Linked DNA regions of Homo sapiens. The protein of the gene in region 1 purifies or fractionates together with the protein of each later gene. This does not show direct contact. Each region holds a gene or a part of one and is shown in the gene's direction. Other genes may lie near its edges.

Region 1 (3,500 bases):
ACAAGAGCGAAACTCTTATGTCAAAAAAAAAAAAAGTTTATGCCAAAGTGCAGATCTCTTTTCTCTTGGTGGCCAGTAGTTGTGTATGTTGTGGGGTATGTGATAGTTCTTTGATCGGTTTTGGTAAGGGCTCAAGAAGAAGGGGCTTGAATGAGTGTGGTTTTGAGATTGTGGTGAGTGAATGCCTTGAAGGCCACTGATTTTTGTGTGGCAGATGTTGAGCTCTTTTCTGTTAGGTGCAGGAAGGTAGGTTAGCATTGAAGGGTGCATGAAAGCTCTGATCAGCCTGTGTTTGGCTTAAATGCCAGTCATTGGTGGAGGTAAAGGATGAACCCGTGTTTCAGCATCTACACTCCACCATTAATTAGCATTGTCAGTTCTTAGAATGAGTCTGAATCTGCTAGTTTGGTTTGCCTTCTTTCAGTTTAGGCAATTGTATTCCTAGACTATGAAGATTTTTGTTTTTCTTACTTGGTCCCCAGATGTCAGTATTGAATATGGTGGTGAGGCGTGACCCTGGCAACACTGAACCTGTGAAAGCCAAGGAAGAGCTCATATTTCACTGTGGATTCAGGCGCTTCCGAGCCTCACCTTTATTCTCTCAGCACACTGCAGGTTAGCAATGGGGAAGCTGGGTTCTTGTCCATCTTGTCTTTTGGGAAAGTGACTTGTGGTGGAGGGGTGCCAAAATATATGGTTTCAAAATCTTACATCTCTGGGTTAGAGGTATTTTCAGTACTCTGGCTTAAGAGCCAATGATGTTTTTATTCAAAATGTCTGAACCTGTCTGAAGCATCCCAGTGATGCAACTTCTGTGTGATACTGAGGCTTTTTTGCCATGAGTATTTGTTCCATAGCAGGTTTTGAATAGAAGTTGGCAGCTTTATAAAAAGGGTATTAGGGTGGGTGCAGTGGTGCAGTGGTTCACACCTGTAATCCCAACACTTGTGGCATTAGAACGGGGAATTGAAGACCAAAAAAGGTAAGATTTAATCTTGTTTTTGTTTCTGTTTTTTTTTTTTTTTTTTTTTTTTTTTTGAGACGGAGTCTCACTCTGTCGCCCAGGCTGGAGTGCAGTGGCGCGATCTAGGCTCACTGCAAGCTCCGCCTCTCAGGTTTACTTACACCATTTTCCTGCCTCAGCCTCCCAAGTAGCTGGGACTACAGGCGCCCGCCACCATGCCCAGCTAATTTTTTGTATTTTTAGTAGAGACGGGGTTTCACCGTGTTAGCCAGGATGGTCTCTATCTCCTGACCTCGTGAGCCGCCCGCCTCAGCCTCCCAAAGTGCTGGGATTACAGGTGTGAGCCACCGCGCCCCCTCTTGTTTTTTTTGTTTTTTTTTGTTTGTTTGTTTGTTTGTTTTTTTGGAGACGGAGTCTTACTCCGTTGCCCAGGCTGGAGTGCAATAGCGTGATCTCGGCTCACTGCAACCTCCGCCTCCCGGGTTCAAGCAATTCTCCTGCCTCAGCCTCCCGAGTAGAGTAGTTGGGACTACAGGCATGCACGACCATGCCCAGCTAATTTTTGTATTTTTAGTAGAGATGGGGTTTCACCATGTTGGGGTTTAGTAGAGATGGGGTTTCACCAAGACCAGGAGTTCAGGCTGGTTTTGAACTCCTGGTCTCAGGTGATCCGCCCACCTCGGTCTCCCAAAGTGCTGGGATTACAGACATGAGCCAATGTGCCTGGCCTCTTTTTTTTTTTTTTTTTTTTTGAGACCGAGTCTCACTCTGATGCTCAACTGGAGTGCAATGGTGCAATCCAGGCTCACTGCAACCTCTGCCTTCCAGGTTCAATCAGTTTTCCTGCCTCAGCTTCCCGAGTAGCTGAGATTACAGGCACCCGCCACCACGCCTAGCTAATTTTTGTATTTTTAGTAGAGACGGGGTTTCACCATGCTGGCCAGGCTGGTCTCGACCTTAGGCGATCCTCCTGCCTTGGCCTTCCAAAGTGCTGGGATTACAGGCGTGAGCCACTGCGCCTGGCCAGTCATTCTTTTATTGTTTCAAAATGGTTTTGATTTTTTTTTTTAGGATGAACTATTTTCATATTTTATACAGTTGGGAAAATAAGGAATAATGTAAAAGTAAAATTACCTTATATTAGAGAAAATTCATTTTTATTTTATACATTTTCATCCAGATCTCATTTTTTTTCTTTACACAATTTGGATTGTAATTGTAAATATGGTGTTAAACATTGCATTTATCACTTAATTGATTTTGATCAATTTTCCATAAGATTAATTAGTTAATGAGACTTTTAATGCTTTATTGTCATTTGGATATATTCCAGTGTATGTGATGTACTGATACTTATTTGAGCTTCTACGGGTGAGCACTTAGGCTATTTCTAATGTTTTGCTCTAAACTAGATCTGTATGCATAAAACTTTATTTACTTCTTTGCTTATTTTGTAAAGGCAGATCCTTAGAACTGGAACTAAATAAAAGTCTCAGTTGCAGAGACTGAGGCAGGAGGATCGCTTGAGGTCAGGAGTGTGAGACTCCGGTCTCTACAATTTTTTTTTTTTTTTTTTTGATATAGAGTCCAACTCTGTCACCAAGGCTGGAGTGCAGTAACATGATCTCAGCTCATTGCAGCCTCCCCGTCCCAGGTTCAAGTGATTCTGGCGCCTCAGCCTCCCAAGTAGCTCGGACCATAGGTGTCTGCCACCACGCCCAGCTACTTTTTGTATTTTTAGTAGAGATGGGGTTTCACCAAGTTGGCCAGTCTGTTCTCAAACTCTTGACCTCAGGTGATCCACGTGCCTTGGCCTCCCAAAGTGCTGGGATTTATAGGGATGAGCCAACATGCCCGGCCTCTACGAAAAAAAAATTTTTTTTTTTGGGAGATGGAGTTTCACTCTTGTTGCCCAGGCTGGAGTGCAGTGGCAGGATCTTGGCTCACTGCAACCTCTGCCTCCTAGGTTCAAGTGATTCTCCTGCCTCAGCCTCCCAAGCAGCTGGGATTACAGGCGTGTACCACCATGCCTAGCTAATTTTTCTATTATTAGTAGAGATAGAGTTTCACCATCTTGGCCAGGCTGGTCTCAAACTCCCGACCTCAGGTGATCCACCCGCATTGGCCTCCCAAAGTGCTGGGATTACAGGCATGAGCCACTGCGCCCGGCCAAAAATTTTTCTTTTTAATTAGCCAGGTGTGGTGGCATGTGCTTTGCAGTCCCAGCTACTTGGGAGGCTGAGGCAAGAGGGATTGCCTGAGCCAGTGGGCCCAGGAGTTTGAGGCTCCAGTGAGCTGTGTTCACACCACAGCCCTTAAAATATTTTATTTTCCTATAAGTTTAGTATTTTTAAAAGGGGGGTGAGGGCTACATTGAAGGTAGAACACCAAATACAGTCTAGCCTAGATAGCAGAGTGAGACACTGTCTCTCAGAATTTAAAAGGGTGTGATAAAGTGTGGAAACTTTGATGTCTAGTGTGCCAAGGGCAGTGTGGGTGAAGGAATGGAGGCTGGGTATGGCTCATAGTTGGGTAA
Region 2 (4,060 bases), on another chromosome or scaffold:
AGACACCCTAAATACTTGTAACAAAATTTCTCACGTACCCCATAAATTTGTACAAATAAAGTTAGTCACTTGGTTTTTTTAAAAACTTTTCGCCCAGGCGCGGTGGCTTATGCCTGTAATCCCAGCACTTTGGGAGACTGAGGGGGGCGGATCACCTGAGGCCAGGAGTTTGAAACCAGTCTGGTCAACAGGGCGAAACCCCATCTCTACTAAAAATAAAAATATTAGCAGGGCGTGGTGGTGTGAGCCTATAATCCCAGCTACTTAGGAGGCTGAGGGAGAAGAATCCCTTGAACCTAGAGGGCAGAGGTTGCAGTGAGCCAAGATCGCGCCCCTGTACTTCAGTCTGGGTGACAGAGCCGGGCTCTGTCTCAAAAATAAAAAAAAAATTCATTTCTATGCCTTCTTATGTAAGTACAGAAAGAAAAATTCCGTTTAAATGGAGATGTTCATTGGTTGAAGATGGTTAATCAAAGACATGCTGCATTCAAGTAAAAAGCAGACAAAGGCTTGAATATCGAGGAGTTGCAGAGCCAGTATGGGTAACTATTCTAAAATCCTTAAATCGCTCCTGGGCCCTCGAAGTCCTACCCGCGTAGGTCAGCCCGAACTATCAAAATCCCCACTTCCTCTGGAGGTAAGGACGTCCGCCGCGCTCTCCACGTGTCACCTTAAACTCCCACCCCAACCAGCGCAGGCGCACTTCGAAGCCTCCTAGACCAACCTAAGAGAAGTACTGAGCAAGCGCATGAGTTCCATTAACCACGCCCTCCGGAGCTGCCGGAGCAGGCGCAATTAGGAGTAGAGGGCGTGCTTGTGTGATTACAGTCCACTTTACCTTTAACAGATTTGGTTGTCTGGACTCTAGCTCAGGTTCTTTTACCCCTGTCTTGTTGGAAGTCACTTTGCCTAGAGTAGAAGTTGTTTGCGGGAAAAATTTGCTCCTCCCATTAAGTAACCACTTTGCTCTCTGAGGCGGAACGTGTCATTGAGGCAGCAAGTCCTGACAGATATGGAAAAAAAAAGGCACATTGTAGAGAATATCTACACTCCGCCAACTCAGTCACAACGCAAAAATTACACAAAAATAAAACGTTCACTTGTTACATACTATGTGTTTCATAAGACATACAAGTAGTTTTATTTTCCTATATCAATGAGAACAGCACTTCTAACTATTAACAAGGACCTATACTAAGACGCAGCGCGTGCGCGAGCCATCTGGCGCTGTAAAGCGCTTAGAGGCTGGAATAACGACCTGCCTTACGCTTTGCGGCTGTCGTCGGAGAGGCATCTGGGTTCGGACTGGGGCCGCCATGGGGAAAGTGAATGTGGCCAAGTTGCGTTACATGAGCCGAGATGACTTCAGGGTCTTGACCGCGGTAAGAAACCCGCCGTTCCTGTTCTCCCTTCCCCTTAACACTGTGTGACCTCTTCCTGTTCCTGCAAGTTTTCTGGGATCTGAGCAGGCACACTCTGGGACCCGGGACGTGGCAGAAGCTGGGAATGGAGAAGAGAGCATTCAGAAAGTCGGATTTTTAAAAAGGTTTTGTTTGGGAGCTTACCTTCCCCCAGATAGAGCAAAGGTCCCGTCTTCTAATAATTGTTTTCTTTTCTGCTGCTATTCGCTTTGCGCTGAAGAGAAACGCTTGCATCTCTGTGGCCTGGAAACTTCTCTGATCCTGAGCTTCCGACCAGCTGTGAAAGGTTTAAGCCCCCCCCCCCCCCCGAGATTTGATAATATTGACTTCCCTACTAACAGACTCAGTCGCATAGCAGTCTTTCTGATTCATTCAGTCAACACATATTTGTCGGTTTTTTAGTAGCAACATTAGGAGGTTCACTTGTTCAAACAGACAAGTGGAGAGAGAGACACAGATCATCAAGTAAACGAAAAATAGGATAATGGATAAATGCTATGAAAATGATAAAGGATAATGGCATAGAAAGTATATGTATCTGGTGGAGAGGAGGGGCACAAGTTATTGGCCTTTGGTAGACAATCAATAAATATTCACTAAATGAAAGAATGAATGGGGGAATAATAGGAGCTGTGTGAGAAAGAGACAGCCCAGTGAAGTCCTTGGAAAGAGTTGGAGGCAGAGGAAACAGCAGTAGTAAGTGCAAAGGCCTTGAGACAGAAAAGTCTTTGAAGAGAGGAAAGGCCAATGTAATGTGGCTGGAGCAAAGTGAGATGCACACTAATGGTTGGAGATGTAGCGGAAAAGGTGAGAAATTATGTACTACAGAGCCTTGGAGGTTTGGTAAAGAATGTGGGGGTAACCACTAAATGTTTTTAATCAGGGGAGTAACAAAATCTGATTTTATGGCCTCAGTCTTATGGCACAGAAATTAATATATAGATCAAGACATTTGTACATTTATTTAGGAGCCGTTATCTTTTGGTAAGGAGTGAACCCCATGATAAGGACTACCTATATTGTGTAATTATGTAATAGGATATGCGATGTGAGTCACACTGGTTCTTGCATTATGTTAAGGCTTCAAGTTTTGGATTTTTAAAATTAATCTTAAATAGCGCTTAAGTATTAAACTATCAAATGCAAAATCAGTGTGAAATTTGGAAGACAATGTTTACTTTGCCTCTCATGTAGATTCTTCTAATCAGCTGGACTTTCTCTATGAAAACCTACTATCACTTCGGAAAGATACCTTCCTTTCCTGCTTTCTCAGCACACTCATTCCTTAGTGTCTCTGACAGAAGTAGGGGTCAAAAGTAAGAGTGTTAGAGGACGGGGGAGGCAGAGACAAAGCATGGAAAATAAGTTAAATTTAAAAGTTAAGGTTTTGGTGAGACATCAAAATGATGCCAGATTTATCTTCCAAAACATTGGCGCTGCAATATTTAAATTATTTGTAAAGTTCACCAAGAAATGACTTAGTCATTAAATATGACATTCCGGTCTCAGTTGAATCTCACCAGTGTTGGTACCCTTTCTTGGGCCTCTCTTCCCTTTTACTTCTTTGGCTCCTCCTATATCAATAATCATTGTTTGACTAGCTGCCCTTAGCTTTCAATATGAACTTGCCCCAGAATTCTGCTCCCAAACATTCCTTTTCTTCCATTATCTCCTGCTCAGTGATAGCATCCACTTCACATCTTCAACTCTCACTTCTATAAAATAATTGACAATTTTTCCTTCTAATTATAACTTCATTCCTAAATATAGGCCCCTTTCCTATTTAATTTTCTCTCTTTCTTTTTTTTTTTTTTTTGAGACGGAGTCTTATTCTGTTGCCAGGCTGGAGTGCAGTGGCACAATCTCAGCTCACTGCAACCTTCACCTTCTGGGTTCAAGCGATTCTCCTGCCTCAGCCTCCCAAGTAGCTGGGACTATAGGCGCACACCACCACGCCCAGCTAATTTTTGTATTTTTAGTAGAGATGGGGTTTCACCATGTTGGCCAGAATGGTCTCGATCTCTTGACCTCGTGATCCACCCACCTTGGCCTCCCAAAGTGCTGGGATTACAGGTGTGAGCCACTGCACCTGGCCTCCAGTTTTCCTTTAAACATTTTTATTTGACTCTCAGTGCTCAAACCAAATTCAATTTTTTTCTACCCCCTTTCTCTTTTCCCAAGCTCTATAAAAAAAAAAAATAATAAAATCTTAAAACTTGCTTTTCCTCATCACTTCCAATTGTGGCTTTCCGTTCCCTTTACCCTTCCACATCTAATTGCCAAGCTCTCCCATAATACTTCCTAAAGATTTTTATTCCTTCCTTCCAGTACCACTACCACTTACCCTGTTCTGGTGGCTCTTTCCTCTGAGCTGGACTTCTGTCTTAGTTCTCCGGAGTACCCCCTCAGATTTTGCCATCTCTAAGCCAATTTGCATATTCCTGGTACATTAATGTCCTTAAAATAACCCTGTTCGTGTGTCTCCCACGCCTAAACATCTTCAAGAGCTTCCTGCTCTCATCAGGATAAAATATAAAAGTATTTGGTCTACATTTTAATGCCTTCTCTATCCTAGAAGTATCTTCCAGCCGCGTTTGCATGAATTCTATATGCTATCCCATCTGAGCTGCTACTGTACT
Region 3 (4,208 bases), on another chromosome or scaffold:
GGTTAAAGAGACGTAGAAAATATTTCCAAAGGCACAAGTTTAGCATGAGGGACTTCCCTCACAGGAAAGACACCTGGTGTTTTATATGTCCTTCTGAGCACAGACAGGGTATTTCTATGAAGTTACAAAGCTGCAATCCCGTTCTCATGTGCAGCACCACAGGTTTTGCTTTCAAATATCTGCAGGTGCATCCTCCTGCACTCGTTAAACTAAGGGTTTTCCTTTTCTGTGCTAGACCCGCTTTTACGACCACGCTCTCCACCTGATTCACAGAAAGGGTTCTACGACCGTCAGGTCACCGCCGCCTTTGTACTTTATTGGGGAGTCGAAGGCCTCAGCGCTGCTCGCGATTTCCCTAAGGTGGTCGGGAAGGTCCCAACCACGTTCTTCTGTAAACCAGATAAGGAAGGCCTGGGGATTCCGGCCGCGGAAAGGCACAGAGGAGGTGAACGCTCCGGCTGCCCAAGTGACGCACTTGTAGGCGGATTCGGAAACTCGTGCTCTTGAGCCGGAGGCGGAGCCCCCAGACTCAGACCGACCCCCCAGAACCGGGCGGCCTTGCCCGAGGCATGAAGGCTTTCTAGGCCCGCTTCTAAAAGCTGTGTACAATGGAGACTCCTGGAATAGGCACATATCTCTACTGTAATCAGAACGAGATGTAACATCTAAGACGCAGGGCAGGGCTCTGGCAAAGACACGCTGGGGGAACGTGAAAGAAAGGGCCAAAACTACGCAGCTGGTCCTCAGAGACCAAAGACTACGACCCCCAGCATTCAATGCAGTGAACCCCTAGGACGTTGCATGCCGGGAGCTGTAGTTTCTCACCACCGCCACCCCCCCGCCCCCCCGCCATCTGAAAGGGTTCTAGGGGATTTGCAACCTCTCTCGTGTGTTTCTTCTTTCCGAGAAGCGCCGCCACACGAGAAAGCTGGCCGCGAAAGTCGTGCTGGAATCACTTCCAACGAAACCCCAGGCATAGATGGGAAAGGGTGAAGAACACGTTGCCATGGCTACCGTTTCCCCGGTCACGGAATAAACGCTCTCTAGGATCCGGAAGTAGTTCCGCCGCGACCTCTCTAAAAGGATGGATGTGTTCTCTGCTTACATTCATTGGACGTTTTCCCTTAGAGGCCAAGGCCGCCCAGGCAAAGGGGCGGTCCCACGTGTGAGGGGCCCGCGGAGCCATTTGATTGGAGAAAAGCTGCAAACCCTGACCAATCGGAAGGAGCCACGCTTCGGGCATCGGTCACCGCACCTGGACAGCTCCGATTGGTGGACTTCCGCCCCCCCTCACGAATCCTCATTGGGTGCCGTGGGTGCGTGGTGCGGCGCGATTGGTGGGTTCATGTTTCCCGTCCCCCGCCCGCGGGAAGTGGGGGTGAAAAGCGGCCCGACCTGCTTGCGGTGTAGTGGGCGGACCGCGCGGCTGGAGGTGTGAGGATCCGAACCCAGGGGTGGGGGGTGGAGGCGGCTCCTGCGATCGAAGGGGACTTGAGACTCACCGGCCGCACGCCATGAGGGCCCTGTGGGTGCTGGGCCTCTGCTGCGTCCTGCTGACCTTCGGTGAGTGATTCTGGAGGAGCAGACGTCCCCCCTCCACACACGCGGCCGCTTCTCGAAGGTCCTGGGGGCGTTGAACGTGGGAGGGGGGATCCCGGGGCCTGCGGTGGGCCAAGGGACGTCACCATTCCTCGAAAGAGGGCAAGGGAATTACGTTTATTCTCTTCTTCCTCTGGAAATAAAAAAAGAGAGCAACATCATCTAACTGCCCTACAGATCTAATAGTATCTCGCCCGGAGGTCTCAGCGACCTCGGGGTGGGGCCTCTCTGAGGCTCTGGCTCCCCCGGGAGCTGTGCGAGTCCCTCCCCCCTCCCCGCCCGGAGGACTTTTTCGGCCACCGCAACCTTCGGCCATCCCAGCTTTCCCGTCCCCTAATTCCCCAGACTCCGACTCCTCGCAAGCCCGTGTCCCTTCTTAGATGCTGGCCTCGGGAGCGTGAGGCCTGGGGCCAGCGGAATGGCAGTGTCAGCGTGTTTGATTCAGTTTTGCTGGAGTTCGGTTCTTAACATTTCTCCCCCTTCTCATGCCTCTGGGCTCAATTTCAGTTCCCCTCGCCAGAGGTTGCATAAATCCTATTTGCATTCTGACCTGTGCTAACGAAGGCCGAAGTTTTGGCTTGATCAGTTGGGAGGCCTTGGCTCGGCCTGCGCGCAACACGTGTGGGTGTAGAAGAGGCCTGGTATCAGTCTGCTTAACGTTATTTATAAATGATCGGAGACACACTGTTTAGAAGTGGTGACTGCCTCCGTATTTCAGGATCTACTGGAGACTTCAGCATCTGAACTTAAATAGATGTTCTGTCTTGGCTTTACCTTTGGTATTTAAACCAGGGAATGCACTCTTTCATCCCCACCTCCCTTAGTTACCAACTGAATTTTGCAACCCCTACCCTTCCCTATTTGATCATCCTCCTTGGAGAAGTGTGATGTTGAAGAGTTTGCCCGTGTTAAATCTTCAGGGTCGGTCAGAGCTGACGATGAAGTTGATGTGGATGGTACAGTAGAAGAGGATCTGGGTAAAAGTAGAGAAGGATCAAGGACGGATGATGAAGTAGTACAGAGGTTTGTGTTCATTTGAACTTACGTATACAGATAAGCCGTGTGAACCTTGTGAGTTACGGTCACTTCTTATGTATCTCTTCTCCAAAGGTCCAGATAAAGTCTAACACCCTGTATTTAAATACCCGGTGAGTTGTGTGCATACATACCTCCTAACTTGTCCCTAGGAGTGATGAAAACTGAGTGAATTCCTTTGAAAACTATATTGCAGAATACTAGCACCATAAACTTTGTAAGACTTTATAGAAGATACTTTCAGTTGGATTTGTATTCATTAACTGTGTACACCGAGTAAGTTTAAAAATGGGATTTCTGTCAGTTGAACAATATTTTAAAATTTGGCCTCTTGGGACTTATTGACAGTTTTGAAGTCCTCACTGTGGAGCATAAATGAGTATGACTTTGCTTTTTAGTAGAGGAAAGTTGGGATTTTTTTTTTTCTGGCAATTTTAAGAACCGAGTATTTCCAGTGTAATGTTAAAGGTAGCCTACTGCTGTGCTAACATAATGAGACGGTATATCAGTTATATTTTATAAAGGTTTCCATTTTAACCCCCAAGACAATATTCAGAGGCCCCTGTGCTTTCATCATAATTCCTCTAGTTTTGAAGGGAACTATGCCATGCAATATTTGCTTACCTAACTGATTTCCTTAGAGAGGAAGAAGCTATTCAGTTGGATGGATTAAATGCATCACAAATAAGAGAACTTAGAGAGAAGTCGGAAAAGTTTGCCTTCCAAGCCGAAGTTAACAGAATGATGAAACTTATCATCAATTCATTGTATAAAAATAAAGAGGTAAGCAACATGTGGTTAGAATATTTTATCTCTGTATGGTGGCATACTTGTTTACTTAAATTTGCTTAATTTACTGCAAAAGTAATGTAGTATCCAAGTAAGTAGGTAACAACCTTTAAATACCTAATATGTCCAAGAATTGCTACCAGATATCTGGGAAGAAAGGGAGTGTCAGACATTTTCCTTTTCCTTTACCTCTAAATAGGTTCACGGCCTGATAATAGTTGTGAGTCTAAGGGCAGTCACATAAACTAAACTTCTTGCATTGCATACCTGAAGATCACTGTTAGGTGAATAAGAGTGCTTTTATAAGGTACAGAGAAGAAATAAATGGGTTTGGCATAAAATCGAATATCTTAATGCATCTTGAGGATAGTCTAAGTGTATTCCCTCTGGCTTCCATTTAGATTTTCCTGAGAGAACTGATTTCAAATGCTTCTGATGCTTTAGATAAGATAAGGCTAATATCACTGACTGATGAAAATGCTCTTTCTGGAAATGAGGAACTAACAGTCAAAATTAAGGTAAGTGTAAGGCAGTTTTTCTTTCTTTTAAAGGAAAAGGAATCCTTAAAGGTAGAGGATCCCTATCAGTCAAGATAGGCTAGATTATTTTGCAGTGGCAAAAAAACCCCAAGTCTCAGTGGCTTGAAAGTCATCAAACTATGGCCAAATCTAACTTGACTTGTTTTTCTAAGTAGTTTTATTGGAATGCAGCCATGCCCATTTGTTTATTATCTGTGACTGCTTCTGTGCTTCAACAGCAGAGTCAAGTTGTTTTAACAGAGAACA
Region 4 (4,118 bases), on another chromosome or scaffold:
TTTTTCTTAGAAAAAAGGCATAAATCCTTTGAATGTCCTACAGATCTTGCAATGTCTGGTTCCTGCTTATCCCTCTAGTTTCTTAAGGAGATAAACTTCTTCCCATCACTGAGCTTCTGCATGTGCAGAAGCCCTGGAAACCTTGTCCTTTACTCCTAGTTTGACCTAGTTAGCTTCTGCACATACCAAAATCTGTTTTCATTCATCCCAAATCTGTTTTCACTCTCATTGAACCGTAACCGTGTTCCTTTGTGTGAGACAACTCATCTCGGTTTGTATTTATGTATCGTTGCTTTGATTATTGAACTGAGTATCTCTCCCACTAGAAAATAAACTCCATGAGATGGGGGACATTACCATTCACATCCCTGGGAATACCAGGCACTCAGCTGATGCCTGTCGAATGTGTTAGGTTGCCTCTTCCAACCACACTGCAGGCATCCTGGTGCCCGCTTTGGCTGGACTGCACTGGGGGTGGCAGGACGGTTGGGCGCGGAGGAACTACCCCGCGGATGAGAAGAAAGGTTTTAAATAGGAAACATTCCTCAGTCGGCGGTCAGCTTCTCTGGTCTCGCGCGGCTCAAGCCATGCTTTGGGGGACGCTGGGCGAAGGCTCTGGCAAAGAGGAATGCAGACCCCAGGATCCGCACTCGCCCCCAACGGCAGTCCGGATCCTCGACCCGGCACCCACCTCCCGAAGCAGCTTCAGGTCCCCGTGCTGGATCTCGTACAGCTGAATGACGCCGGTGCCCCGTGCGAAGTTGCCCATGGTCACAAATTTGGCGCTGCAGGGCACCCACTTACAGTCAAACACCGTGTAGTTGAAGCCCTTCTGGATATGGGCGATGATCTGAGGCTTCTCGAAGGCCGACATGGTGCAGCCAATTTCAGCTACGGCAACCGCCACACCCAGAGCCCCCAAAAACGGCAACCTGGAAACCAGACTCCAAACATTGGCAATTTGTCCCTCCCGCTTTCCGTATTCTGCCCCAGATGCCCTGGCATGTTGGCTGTAGTTATCCCCGGATAATGCCAGATGCGCTCCTGCGATCGCACAGAATGTTCCTTCACAACAGCACGAATTTGTTTATCGCCTTTACCCACTGCCTTTCGCACACATACATACTAGAGATTACAAAATACTTGGGCTGGGAGTTGCGCGGCTGGAGTGAGCCCAAGACCATCAGGCATATCTTAGGACAGCCTAACCCCGTTTTCCCCCCCACCGGCCCCAAATCCTGCAGGTCCCCGGCCTGTGACGTTTTAGGAAAGGGGCGGAGCTGCAGGGGTGGTTGGCTGAGGCTGGCTTCTGCGTGGTGCAGCTGCGCACGTGTTTCAGCCGGCAGCGCTTTAAGATTTCCGGGGATGGAATCCGAAATGGAAACGCAGAGCGCCAGGGCAGAGGAGGGCTTTACCCAGGTCACCCGCAAGGGTGGCCGACGGGCGAAGAAACGACAGGCTGAACAGCTGTCCGCAGCAGGAGAGGGCGGGGATGCGGGCCGCATGGACACAGAGGAGGCCAGGCCGGCGAAGAGGCCCGTCTTCCCACCCCTCTGTGGGGACGGGCTCCTGGTATGTGGCTGGGACCCTAGGACAGCAACGAGGCAAGGGCCAGACGCGGATCAAGCCGATGGCCTCTGGAGAATGTTGAAGCTGCGGTGGGGCTGTTCTGCCGTGATGCTCAGAGAGAAGTGATTCTTTGAAGTGTAACTAGTTCAGTTAAAGGAGGCCCTTTGTGGATCAGATGTCATTTTAAACTCCATCACCGTCCCTCCATAGCCTTCTGAGTTGTGTGTTCTTTTATTTACAGAGTGGGAAAGAAGAAACAAGGAAAATTCCAGTCCCAGCTAACAGATACACACCATTGAAAGAAAACTGGATGAAGATATTTACTCCTATTGTGGAACATTTGGGACTTCAGATACGCTTTAACTTGAAATCAAGGAATGTAGAAATCAGGGTAAGGAAAATCTCAATCATTTCCCAATACACCAGGCTTTCTCTCCTACAGAGATGAAAAGGCATGAATAGGCTTTACTTAATGGGACTTTTCTGTTGTATGGTTTTTGTCCAGTTTAAAAATTTACCATATTGAGTTTGAACTTCCCAAATGCCTTAAAAATCTGCATTCGATACAAATATTAATTGAATTTGTAAATTAGTTCTGAGATCACACCAAAATACTGGCTCTTCTTCTGTGTATCTTTTATAATGTTCTATGTCAAATTGAGAAAAGGTCGAGTAAAGAGATTGCCATAAACAGAAGCAGGTAAATAATGAATATAAGCACTTGCTGCTTTACAAGAAGTATATACAGTCAGCGTCGGGAATATGTTCTGGGATATGTTTTGTCAGATGACTTAGTCCTTGTGCGAATATTATAGAGTGTACTTACACAAACCTAGATGGTATGTGTATATTTGTTTATATATTTTTTTCATATGGAAAACCAAATGTCCCAGCACCATTACTGAATATCAGTCATTTCATCTACTTGATCTGCATTGCCGGTATCCAGTGCCATATATCAGGTTTCTGTATATTCTCCATTATACTGTTATGAGACCACCATGGTATGAGCGGTTGGTCACTGATCAAAATGTCATTATGCAGTGCATGACTGTGTTTTAATGGTGCTCTTTTGATTAAAAAATGTATTATTTTGATAAGAAACATGCATATATATGTGTGTGTGTGTGTGTGTGTGTGTATATATATCTTTTTATTTTGCTCTTTCACCCAGGCTGGAGTGAGTGGCATGATCTTGGCTCACTGTTAACAGGTGCCTGCCACCAAACCTGGCTAATTTTTGTATTTTTAGTAGAGACTGGGTTTTAGCATGTTGGCCAGGCTAGTCTCGAACTCCTGACCTCAGGTGATCACATCTCGGCCTCCCAAAGTGCTGGGATTACAGGCGTGAGCTGCCCCACCGAGCCTATGTATATATTTTAAATTCTGTGCTATCAATCCGGGAATTAGACATTTAAATTTACTTTGGGCTTTCTTTTCTGGGTGCCAATTTCATACCAGAATCGATAACCGAAATTAATTATATTTTCCTTTTTAAGGATTCTTTTACCATCATCCGGACTGGTATAGTCTCATCTCTGTTAATGGAATATAATAATGGAACAAAGAAAGGCACTATTCTAAATAGTTGATAAAGTGTAAAATATCATAGAACATGATAGAGTAACTCCTCTTTGTCCCTGTTGCCATTCTCTCATTCAGGCTTTTATGGTTTCCTGCCAAGGAGTGGTTTCGTTGTAGGTTTCCCTTGCTTCATTGTTTGACGTCTCTCCTTTCTCCACTCATCCATCTGCCAGTGCCAGATTAAGTTTCCCAGATCACAATGCTTTTATGACATCCTGGCATCTTCAAAAAACAAAAAAAAATTTTTTTTTTTTTTTTTTTTTTGAGATAGAGTCTTGCTCCGTTGCCCAGGCTGGAGTGCAGTGTCGCAATCTCGGCTCACTGCAAGCTCCGCCTCCTGGATTCATGCCATTCTCCTGCCTCAGCCTCCTGAGTAGCTGGGACTACAGGCACCCACCACCACGCCCGGCTAATTTTTTGTATTTTTTAGTAGAGACAGGGTTTCACCGTGTTAGCCAGGATGGTCTTGATCTCCTGACCTCATGATCTACCCGCCTCTGCCTCCCAAAGTGCTGGGATTACAGGCGTGAGCATCTTCAACATTTCTAAAGGAAAAAGTTTTGGACTTAACTTGCTTTTCAAGTAGGAGACTCAGTCACAAGTTTGTCTCTCACGGATCATAAAGTTTGTTTATGTCCATACTTTTTGGTGGCTTTGGCCTTTGAAAGAGGTCCGCTCCTCCCTACTCCTTTCTCTTTATACTTCAGTTCCAGTATCTTTCCGGGTCTAGCTCAAGTTCTTTCTCTGTTATGGTATGTCCATTTTTCAGTCATATCTTCAGTGCCTAAACTTTTCATGTGCTTTATTGTCCTATTTATTGCAGGATAATCACTTTGGATTCCACTAACATTTGTTGATGCTGCCATATACCAGACACACAGTGGTATTACACCATGCTCTACATCATTTAGTCTTCAGGATATTCCCATCTTAAAGATGTGAGGAAACTTGGCCACAGTCATCAG
Region 5 (2,694 bases), on another chromosome or scaffold:
GGGTTTTGCCATGTTGGCCACGCTGGTCTCGAACTCCTGACCTCAGGTGATCTGCCCGCCTCGGCCTCCCAAACTGCTAGGATTATAGGTGTGAGCCACAGCGCCTGGCCGGATATGTTTCTATTTCTATGGAGAATGTCATTGGTATTTTTGGTAGGGATTGCATTGAATCCATAGATTGCTTTGAGTAGTATGGCCATTTTAACAATAATAGTTCTTCTGATCCATGAATATAGGATGTCTTTACATTTGTTTGTGTTCTCTTTAATTTCTTTCATCAGTTTTTAGTTTAAAAATATAGAACACTTCACAAATTTGGGTGTCATCCTTGTGCAGGGGGCCATGCTAATCTTCTTTGTTCAAGTTTTGGGTATGTGCTGCTGAAGTAAGCACTGAAAGAACTTTTCTCACAGGGTCTTTTAACCTGTTCCTCCTACCAGGCTTTCTTGGCTTGCTGTTTAACTGTGCTCTTGGGAAACCTCTTTTTACCATTCTTTTGGAGATTCCTTTTAGCTTCGTAGAGGAACCCGTTTCCTGGGTGTCATGTCTTTCCTGTTACTCCCCTATTTTCTGATACAGCACATCTTCCAGTGATTCTTGAGGGTTCAGGGATGGAAAACATTGAGGCCATACATCTCTGCAGGGATCTTTATTCTCTCCCCATGTTTGGTAAGATTTTGATTGAATATAGATGTAGATTGGAAATCATTTTTATAATTTTGAAAGCATTTCTCCATTGTAGACTTTTCTGGCTTCCAGAGTTGCCTGAAGTCTTGATCTTTGCTCTTTGGCCTGTTTCTTCTTTCTGGAATTGTTAGACTCTCCTCTTTTGCCTCCATTGTTCTGATACATCAGGATGTGTCTTGATGTGGGTTTGTTTTTATCGTTTGTGTAGGGAGTGCAGCATGCTCTTTTGTGAACTTCCATTTTGGGGAATTTTCCTGAATTATTTATTTGAAGATTTTGTCCCCTAATCCTTCCTTTCCTTCTTACCTTTTGTCTTTGTGTCATACTTTCTCAGATTTATCTTTCATTACCATTCTGTTGAGATTTTAACTTCTGCTGGGCGCAGTGGCTCACGCCTGTAATCCCAGCACTTTGGGAGGCCAAGGCGGGCAGATCACGAGGTCAGGATATCGAGACCATCCTGGCTAACACGGTGAAACCCCATCTCTACTAAGAAATACAAAAAATTAGCCAGGCGTGGTGGCGGGCGCCTGTAGTCCCAGCTACTCAGGAGACTGAGGCAGGAGAATGGCGTGAACTCGGGAGGTGGAGCTTGCAGTGAGCTGAGACCGTGCCACTGCACTCCAGCCTGGGCAACAGAGCCAGACTCCATCTTTAAAAAAAAAAAAAAAAAAAAGAGAGATTTTAACTTCCACTATTTCTTTAATTTCTAAGTATTCTTTTTTATTTTCTGGATGTTTCCTTTTTATGCCCCTCTGGGTTCCCCCCCACCCAACTCTCCAGTGGATGAAGTATTCATTAAAGATATGGAGTTCAGATTTTTCTCCTTAAAATTTTGTTTCTTTGCTGAGTCAGTTTTCCCAAAATTGCTTTTATTATTTTTGTCTCAGTGTTTCTTATTAAATACTGTCCTCAAATGCCTGGTACTCCTTGGCTACCTGTAGTTGTTATGAGTGTAGGACACGTAAATACCACTTAAATCCTTTCTACATTGATAGGGCTTACAGATCTTGAATTTCATTGTAGATTTATCTGGTTTATCTAGCATTATTTTACTTGGGAAAGTTTGGATGTTAGTATCCTTCATTCTTTTCACTTAGTCTGTCAGATACCCCAAAGAAGATGCATCCAGTCTCCTGCATGGAGGGTATCAGAGAACTTCATTTGCCAGTGTTCTGGGAGCTAAGATTGGGAAGATGGCTGGAGCGCTCGGTATTTTGTGAATATCGAGCTACACTTAATTCCTGTTTTCAAAATGATATTCTTGCCCTTAACTGTATGTGGTGTCTCCCAGTCCAGACACTTCTACAAAGACTAAAACACTAAACTTCTGTTCTGGTGCGGTGGAAGAGGAGAATTACCATCTTTTTTTTCTTTTTTTTTCTTTTCCTTCTGAGATAGGGTCTCACTCTGTTTCCCAGGCTGGAAGGCAGTGGCAGAGTCAGGGCACACTGCGTCCTCGACCTCCTAGGCTCAGAAGATCTTCCCACCTCAGCCTCCTGAGTAGCTGGGATTACAGGTGCACGCCACTACGCCTGGCTAATTTTGAAAAATTTTTTATAGAGATAGGATCTCGCCATGTTGCCTAGGTTGTTCTCAAACTCCTGGGCTCAAGCAGTCCACCTGCCTTGGCCTCCCAAAGTGCTAGGATTATACGCATGAGTCACTGCACCCACTGATAATTACCATCTTTGTGTTGGTGTTGGGAGGGATTGATTCTGGGTATCTGCTTCTAAACATACTCTGCCATCCTTTTTTTTTTTTTTTTTTTTTAATTCCCACTACATCCTCACTTCCATAGGTATCTGGAACCTAAACATTTTGGGTATGTTTGGTGTAAATGCAATTGCTTCTGTTCTTTCCCTACTGCTCGTTTAGTATCAACTCTAGTCAGCCTTCCAGCTTCTAAACCTATATCTTTGTAAAAATCCCTTGTTGTTTTAATGCACTTTTCAAAGAAGATAGAGCTAAGTGTATTTGTTGATTTCACTGTCTTTAACCATAAGT
Region 6 (3,500 bases), on another chromosome or scaffold:
ATACTTCAAAAACTTCTAAAGGTTTGGGAAACAAACGTTCATGTGAAGGAGCCATATGGGCTGATAGCGAGGCTTGCCCCAAGCCTGGCCAGTCTCTGATTGCCCTGCAAGGCCTTTTTTATGTTCATCCCAGAGGCTGAAGCCCAGCTAGGGTGGACCTTGTGGTGACTTCAGAGCTAGATGGGACCAGATCAGTCATCCAGCAAACTGCCACATGTTGCAGATAAGGAAACGGGATGGGAGAAGAAGAGAGATCTTCTTTCTGCTGCCTGTTTTCCAGCCCACCCTCAGGAGGAGGAAGTGGACTTTTCTGTCCGTAATTCAGTTTCAGTCAACATGCCTTTGTCAAGTTCCTACTGTATGCCAGGTGTTAGGCCTGTAACTGTGAACGGGCCACAGACTCTGCCTCCAGGGGCTTGGGGTCGGCTGGGGAAGCAGATGGGCAGTGCAGGGGAATGGGTACAGGGTGCTAGAAGAGGGGAGCCTTCCATTAGGCCTCTTTGTAGAGGCAGGTGGGTATGAGGCTGAAGGACCCGTAGGGATTTGCCCGTGCGAGAGAGAAAACAGCTAATCCAAATGCCCAGAACGTGCTGTTTTGCATGGCTCGGGGATGAGGTGGCGGGAGCGAAGGCCAGAGGCCAGATCAGGAGTTGTATTCTGAAGGTTGTAGGGAGCCCTTGAGGATTTGACTAAGAAGATCATTATTGGTTCTGTTTCAAGACATTCATGGCAACAGTGAAAAATGGACGAGAAAACGCATGGTAGAGACAGGAGAACCATGAAGACATTGAACTGTTACACATGAGAAATAATGAGAACTGCAAGATGGGCTCCAGGCAGCAGGGAGGTGTGAGGAGGAGACAGGGCAGATGCCCTGATCTGTTGGCTCTGGAATCTGTAGGGTTTGTTGTTGTTGTTGTTGGTTTTTTTAATGTACAGTTCAAGGTTGGGTGCAGTGGCTCAGGCCTGTAATCCCAGCACTTTCTGGAGGCCGAGTCAGGCGGATCACTTGAGGCCAGGAGTTCGAGACCACCCTGGCCAACAGGGTGAAACCCTGTCTCTACTGAAAAAAAAAAAAAAAAGCTGGGCATGGTGGCATACACCCATAGTCCCAGCTACTCGGGAGGCTGAAGCAGGAGAATCGCTTGAACCTGGGAGATGGAGCTTACAGTGAGCCAAGATCATGCTGTGCACTCCAGCCTGGGCGACAGAGTGAGACTCCATCTGGGGAAAAAAAAAAAGTACAGTTCAGTAGTATATTCACACTGTTGTGTAACAGGTCTTTAAAACTTTTTCATCCTAAACTAAAACTCTGTACCCATTAAACAATTCCTCATTTCTACTTCCCCAGTCCCTAGCAGCCTCCATTCTACTCTCTGTTTCTCTGGGGTTGACTAGTCTAGGGATCTCATATAAATGGAATCATACAGTATTTATCTTTGTGACTGGCTTGTTTCCCTTAGCATAATGTCTTCAGAGTTCATCCCTGCTGTGGTGTATACAGGATTTCCTTTTGTTCGAAGGCCGAATGACATTCTGGAATCTTTGGTTCTTTTAGCAGGCTGGGTATGGTTAAGTGACAGGGAGGGAAACACACTTGGCTGGACTGCGTGCCGCTGCTGCTGTGACTGTGGGCCTGGGTGTAGGGATAAGCAGCGAGGAGGCGAGCACCCTGGATGAGGTTCGCGTTTACCTACCTCCCGGGGTTAAGTGTGGCAGGGAACCAGGCCTCCTGCTTCTCTGTTCCTTGGGAAAGACAGCTTTTGCATCTTCAGATCTCTGGAGACACAAGTGGGTAGGGTTGGGGAAGATTCTCTCTCAGGGCTTCAGGGCTACAGGGTTGCCCCAGAGAGCCTCTGCCATTCCACCAGTCTCTGTGGCTTCTGTTGGAGGTTTTGTGGACATTCAGAATCATTTAAAATGTTACACGGACTCTGAGGAGCTCATCTGGGAAAGACTATCTCAAAGAGATAACAGAAAAGTCATTTGTGTGTAATATAATTTAGTTGTAGAGTAGAACTCAGATAGAATGATTCCAGAGCTTTGCATAGAGTGGGCAGGCAAAAATAACTGTCAAGTTGACTTTTTGGAGGTTTCAGGTGAGATTTTCAAACATTCAAGCATTTATTCCTTCTTGGTGTCAGTGGAGCCCTGTGACACTCACACAGGTAGGTGGGCAAGAAGCATGGAGCGCACCCTAATTAAATGCCTACTCTGTGCAGGCCCTCCTGTGATCTTTGCTAAGTGAATAGTCATTATGAAATCAAACAGATGAAGTCAGATATCTTGGGGAAAGTCACAGTCAAGTCTGTCTTTAAACTCAGAACATTTCTATTCTACACGGGTACTTCTTAATCTTAGTCACTTGTGTCTGGGTTAAGCCCTTAAATAACTTATACCAGTTTCCCTAGCATTCCTTCCTGCAACCTAGAGATTCCTAATTATGATAATATCCCTGATGGAATGCAGTGGTTCCCACATCTGGCTTGTCCCCAGCAAAGAATTGAGGATTCAGCACTCTGTGAAGGAAAAGCATGGTGTGCAGTTAGAGCAGATCCACAGTGACCTGACTTCATCAGAAGGGACACATGTCTGAGGAGGTGACATTTAAGGAGAGACCTGCAGATTAGACCCAAACTTGGCCAGCAGGCAGCATAGTAAGAAGAGCCCCACAGACCGTAAGTGTGCTCAAGCAAGTCCTGCCGCTTCAGCCTCTGAGGCCAGACCTGGTTCTGCAGGACTTAGGAAGCCTAACTGCAGTGCACTGCAGGGAGCCCGCAGAATGGGCGAAGTGCAGTCAGACCCGGACTGGGAAGCATTAAGGTTATTTCTAGTTTATTGGAGTTGAATAATCAACATGTTCTTTTTTTAGAAAAATAACCTTTTTACTTTTGAATAATTTAGATTTATAGAAACATTGCCAAGATAGTAAGTCTCCATATATCCTTCACTTAGCTTCCCCAAGTATGAATACAGCCATGGTACATTTGTCAAAACTAAGAAATTAACATTAATCCCTCTTTGTGCATGTAGCTTTGAATCTCTGTGTAGTATTTCTTTTGGAACAGTTGTTAGAAATGGGAGGTTTGAGGCCAGGCGCGGTGGCTCACGCCTGTAATCCCAGCACTTTGGGAGGCCAAGGCGGGCGGTTCACGAGGTCGGGATATTGAGACCATCCTGGCTAACACAGTGAAACCTGTCTCTACTAAAAATACAAAAAATTAGCCAGGCGTGATGGCGGGTGCCAGTAATCCCAGCTACTCAGGAGGCTGAGGCAGGAGAATGGCGTGAACCCGGGAGGCGGAGCTTGCAGTGAGCGGAGATCGTGCCACTGCACTCCAGCCTGGGCGACAGAGCGAGACTCCATCTCAAAAAAATAATAATAAAAAGAAATGGGAGGTTTGAGAATGTGGGATCATTGTTAGAGTGCCCTCCAGGTGGCTGTGCCCTGTCCGCTCCTGCCCTCATTGGTGAGAGTGTCTTTCTCCCACAGCTCCAGT
Region 7 (3,500 bases), on another chromosome or scaffold:
GGTTCAAGCAATTCTCTTGTCTCAGCCTCCTGAGTATCTGGGACTACAGGCACCTGCCACCACGCCCTGCTAATTTTTGTATTTTTAATGGGGACAGCGTTTCACCATATTGGTCAGGCTGGTCTCAAACTCCTGACCTCAGGTGATCCACCCGCCTTGGCCTTCCAGTGTGCTGGGATTATAGACGTGAGCCATCGCGCCTGGCCAGATGTGTTTCTTTTTTTTTTCTTTTCTTTTTTTTTGTTTTTGAGATGGGGTTTTGCTCTGTTTCCAGGCTGGAGTGCAGTGGTGCGATCTTGGCTCACCACGACCTCCACCTCCTGGGTTCAAGCGATCCTCCTGCCTGAGCCTCTGGAGTGGCTGGGACTACAAACATGTGCTAACACGCCCAGCTAATTTTTGTATTTTTAGTAGAGACGGGGTTTCACCATGTTGGCCAGGATGGTCTCGATCTCTTGACCTCGTGATCTGCCCACCTCGGCCTCCCAAAGTGCTGGGATTACAGGTATTAGCCATGGTGCCTGGCTGTGTTTCCCTTCTTATATCCTTTTCCCATGCCACTTCCTTCCCATTTTACTCCTTTTTTCCTAGCTTTTATGTACATGTATACATATAGACATATGCCTAGACACACATACATATTAGCTTTTTTTTTTTTTTGGAGACAGAGTCTCTGTCACCAAGGCTAGAGTGCAGTGATGTTGTCATGGCTCACTGCAGCCTTGACCTCACCAGCTCAAGTGATCCTCCTGCCTTAGCCTCCTCAGTAGCTGGAACTACAGGCACATGCCACCATGCCCAGCTAATTTTTGTATTTTTTGTAGAGCCAAGGTTTTACCATGTTGCCTTGGCTCGTCTTGAACTCCTGGGCTCAAGCGATCTGCCCACTTTGGCTTCCCAAAGTGCTGGGATTACAAGCACGTACCACTGCGCCAGGCTTACATTGTAAAAAATGGGCCGGGTGTGGTGACTCACTCCTGTAATCCCAGCACTTTGGGAGGCCAAGTCGGGCGGATCACGAGGTCAGGAGATTAAGACCATCCTGGCTAACACGGTGAAACCCCGTCTCTACTAAAAATACAAAAAAAATTAGCCAGGCGTGGGGGCGGGCGCCTGTAGTCCCAGCTACTCGGGAGGCTGAGGCAGGAGAATGGTGTGAACCCGAGAGGCAGAGCTTGCACTGAGCCAAGATCGCGCCACTGCGCTCCAGCCTGGGTGACAGAGCGAGACTCCGTCTCAAATATATATATATGGAATCCTAATTTCACATTTTATGCAACTCGCACTTGCCACTCAGCAGAATGTCTTTTATTTCGTAGTATGGATACGTATAATTTGTTTGATCAGTTAATTGAAATTTGGAGGCTTTCCAGTGGTTATCAGCAATTCTATAGTCAACATCTGTGTTCAGTATATCTTTTTGTATGTGTAAGAATTTTTTTGTATTGTAGATTTCCTAGAAGGAGAGTTGTTGAGACATAGGATATATGCATTTAAAGTTTTGATGGATGTCTCAAATTGTCCTCCCAAATATCTGTTCTCATGTCTTGAATCTTTTTATTTTTTTTGAGACGGAGTCTCACTCTGTCACCCAGGCTGGAGTGCAGTGGCACTATCTTGGCTCACTGTAACCTCCACCTCCCGAGTTCAAGTGATTCTTCTGCCTCAGCCTCCCAAGTAGTTGGGTCTACAGATGCGTGCCACCATGCCTGGCTAATTTTTGTATTTTTAGTAGGGACAGAGTTTCACCATGTTGGCCAGTCTGGTCACGAATTCCTGACCTCAAGTGATCCACCCGCCTTGGCCTCCCAAAGTGCTGGAATTACAGGCGTGAGACACTGCTCCCAGCCTCATCTCTTCAATCTTGAACATGTTACATTTATGACAAATCAAAGGTAGTGGCTAGTAAACTCCAAAAGGTTTTGTTAGTTCAAAGGTTTTTTTTTTTTTTTTTGAGACGAAGCCCCTGTCGCCCAGGCTGGAGTGCAGTGGCACGATCTTGGCTCACTGCAAGCTCTGCCTCCCGTGTTCACGCCATTCTCCTGCCTCAGCCTCCCAAGTAGCTGGGACTACAGGCGCTGCCACCATGCCCAGCTAATTTTTTGTATTTTTAGTAGAGACAGGGTTTTCACCGTATTAGCCAGGATAGTCTTGATCTCTTGACCTCGTGATCTGCCTGCCTCGCCTCCCAAAGTGCTCGGATTACAGGCGTGAGCCACCGTGTCTGGCCAAGTTCAGAGGTTTTCTTAAAAATTGTGGTAAAATATATGTAACATAAATTTTACTATTCTAACCGTATTTAAATGTATAGCTCAGTGGCATTAAGTACATTGACACTATTGTACAACCCAAAGAGTGTTGTTTTGATTAGAAAATAAGCAGCTTCAGGAAAGGCATAGATGACTCTGACTTTGAATTCAGTGGGATAAAGGAAAGTAGGATGTTTTGGTGTCTAGTACTAGAAGGACAAAAATGCCTTCCACAGTTTGTGTTTCAGTGCCTTTGTCAGAGATGGAATGTTTAGGTGGGCAGAGTTATAAGAACACTCCAGCCATGGTAGACAGAAGCCCACAGACCAATCAAAATACATTGAGTCTTGGTTCTTGGTTCAGGACAGGATTAAAAAAGAAGTGGGGGTAGGGAAAGATTGCTTGTTGTAAAGTATAAAAGCCTGGACACGATGGAAGTGATTTGCATGTGCTTCTATTTGTTTGTGTGTTTTTCTGTGTTCAGATTGTCTTTTTATATCTCACCATTTCAAAACGATTTGTTTTGGTTATTAAAGATATATACGGTATTTACCTTTTAACATAAGATTAAAAAATTAGTAAATGAAAATTTGAAAGAAAAGAAAAATGATACAATCACTATGGTATGAATAGAACACAGAATTTGTGCCAAAGAAAGTGTAATTTGTTTGTCCCTGAGCTTCCTAGTAGCAAAGAAAAGAGGGAAACACAGTCATTCCGTGGTCCATAGGATTAGGACAATCCAGAACTCAGGATTAGTATAGCTTTCCCCAGAATAGAGACCTCAGAACATTTACCCTTGAATTATAAGTAAATGATTACTGTAGAAAACCTGATCTTCAATCACATCTCTGAAGTCAGTACTGTGATAAGTTTAATGGAACTGTTTGTTACCATGTCCTTCAATCTAGACTGATGGCATAATGTCAAAGTACAGTGCAGGAAAGGGACCAGATGAAAATGATTCAGATGTGTAGCCTGCTGATGTTCTGACTTGGCCAAGAATAAAATTAGAGTAGCTACAGTAATGCTTATTTCTTAAGTTCATTTGAGTATGAACTCCATAATTTTGCCGTGCTTGTGTTTCATCTATAGTATTGTTCACTTAATACAGTGTTTTTTGTTTTTTGTTTTTGAGATGGAGTCTCGCTCTGTCGCCCAGGCTGGAGTGCAGTGGCACAAACTCAGCTCACTGCAAGCTCCGCCTCCCTGGTTCACACCATTCTCCTGCCTCAGCCTCCCGAGTAGCTG

What was found.
Region 2: the proteins of TSR1 (region 1) and RIOK2 fractionate together in Homo sapiens (co-fractionation; 3 studies listed by BioGRID and IntAct, with this or other methods). This does not show direct contact.
Region 3: the proteins of TSR1 (region 1) and HSP90B1 fractionate together in Homo sapiens (co-fractionation; one large-scale study listed by BioGRID). This does not show direct contact.
Region 4: the proteins of TSR1 (region 1) and PNO1 purify together in Homo sapiens (affinity purification with mass spectrometry; 2 studies listed by BioGRID and IntAct, with this or other methods). This does not show direct contact.
Region 5: the proteins of TSR1 (region 1) and NUP153 purify together in Homo sapiens (affinity purification with mass spectrometry; 3 studies listed by BioGRID and IntAct, with this or other methods). This does not show direct contact.
Region 6: the proteins of TSR1 (region 1) and PPP6R3 fractionate together in Homo sapiens (co-fractionation; one large-scale study listed by BioGRID). This does not show direct contact.
Region 7: the proteins of TSR1 (region 1) and PARN purify together in Homo sapiens (affinity purification with mass spectrometry; 2 studies listed by BioGRID and IntAct, with this or other methods). This does not show direct contact.

What each region holds. Positions count from the first base shown.
Region 1 is NC_000017.11:2,326,458-2,329,957, reverse strand, and holds part of TSR1 (pre-rRNA-processing protein TSR1 homolog), read left to right. Parts: intron 1-482; coding exon 483-615; intron 616-747; exon of another isoform or gene 748-833; intron 834-3,500. UniProt on the Homo sapiens protein: Required during maturation of the 40S ribosomal subunit in the nucleolus.
Region 2 is NC_000005.10:97,180,448-97,184,507, reverse strand, and holds the start of RIOK2 (serine/threonine-protein kinase RIO2), read left to right. Parts: upstream 1-1,260; 5' UTR 1,261-1,316; coding exon 1,317-1,382; intron 1,383-4,060. UniProt on the Homo sapiens protein: Serine/threonine-protein kinase involved in the final steps of cytoplasmic maturation of the 40S ribosomal subunit. Involved in export of the 40S pre-ribosome particles (pre-40S) from the nucleus to the cytoplasm.
Region 3 is NC_000012.12:103,929,002-103,933,209, forward strand, and holds the start of HSP90B1 (endoplasmin precursor), read left to right. Parts: upstream 1-1,408; 5' UTR 1,409-1,514; coding exon 1,515-1,563; intron 1,564-2,519; coding exon 2,520-2,622; intron 2,623-3,275; coding exon 3,276-3,417; intron 3,418-3,824; coding exon 3,825-3,941; intron 3,942-4,208.
Region 4 is NC_000002.12:68,156,570-68,160,687, forward strand, and holds the start of PNO1 (RNA-binding protein PNO1), read left to right. Parts: upstream 1-1,318; 5' UTR 1,319-1,365; coding exon 1,366-1,572; intron 1,573-1,810; coding exon 1,811-1,960; intron 1,961-4,118. Other genes in the region: DNAAF10 (dynein axonemal assembly factor 10), read right to left, coding at 692-874. UniProt on the Homo sapiens protein: Part of the small subunit (SSU) processome, first precursor of the small eukaryotic ribosomal subunit.
Region 5 is NC_000006.12:17,617,232-17,619,925, reverse strand, and holds part of NUP153 (nuclear pore complex protein Nup153), read left to right. Parts: intron 1-2,694. UniProt on the Homo sapiens protein: Component of the nuclear pore complex (NPC), a complex required for the trafficking across the nuclear envelope. Functions as a scaffolding element in the nuclear phase of the NPC essential for normal nucleocytoplasmic transport of proteins and mRNAs.
Region 6 is NC_000011.10:68,596,752-68,600,251, forward strand, and holds part of PPP6R3 (serine/threonine-protein phosphatase 6 regulatory subunit 3), read left to right. Parts: intron 1-3,500.
Region 7 is NC_000016.10:14,620,261-14,623,760, reverse strand, and holds part of PARN (poly(A)-specific ribonuclease PARN), read left to right. Parts: intron 1-3,500. UniProt on the Homo sapiens protein: 3'-exoribonuclease that has a preference for poly(A) tails of mRNAs, thereby efficiently degrading poly(A) tails.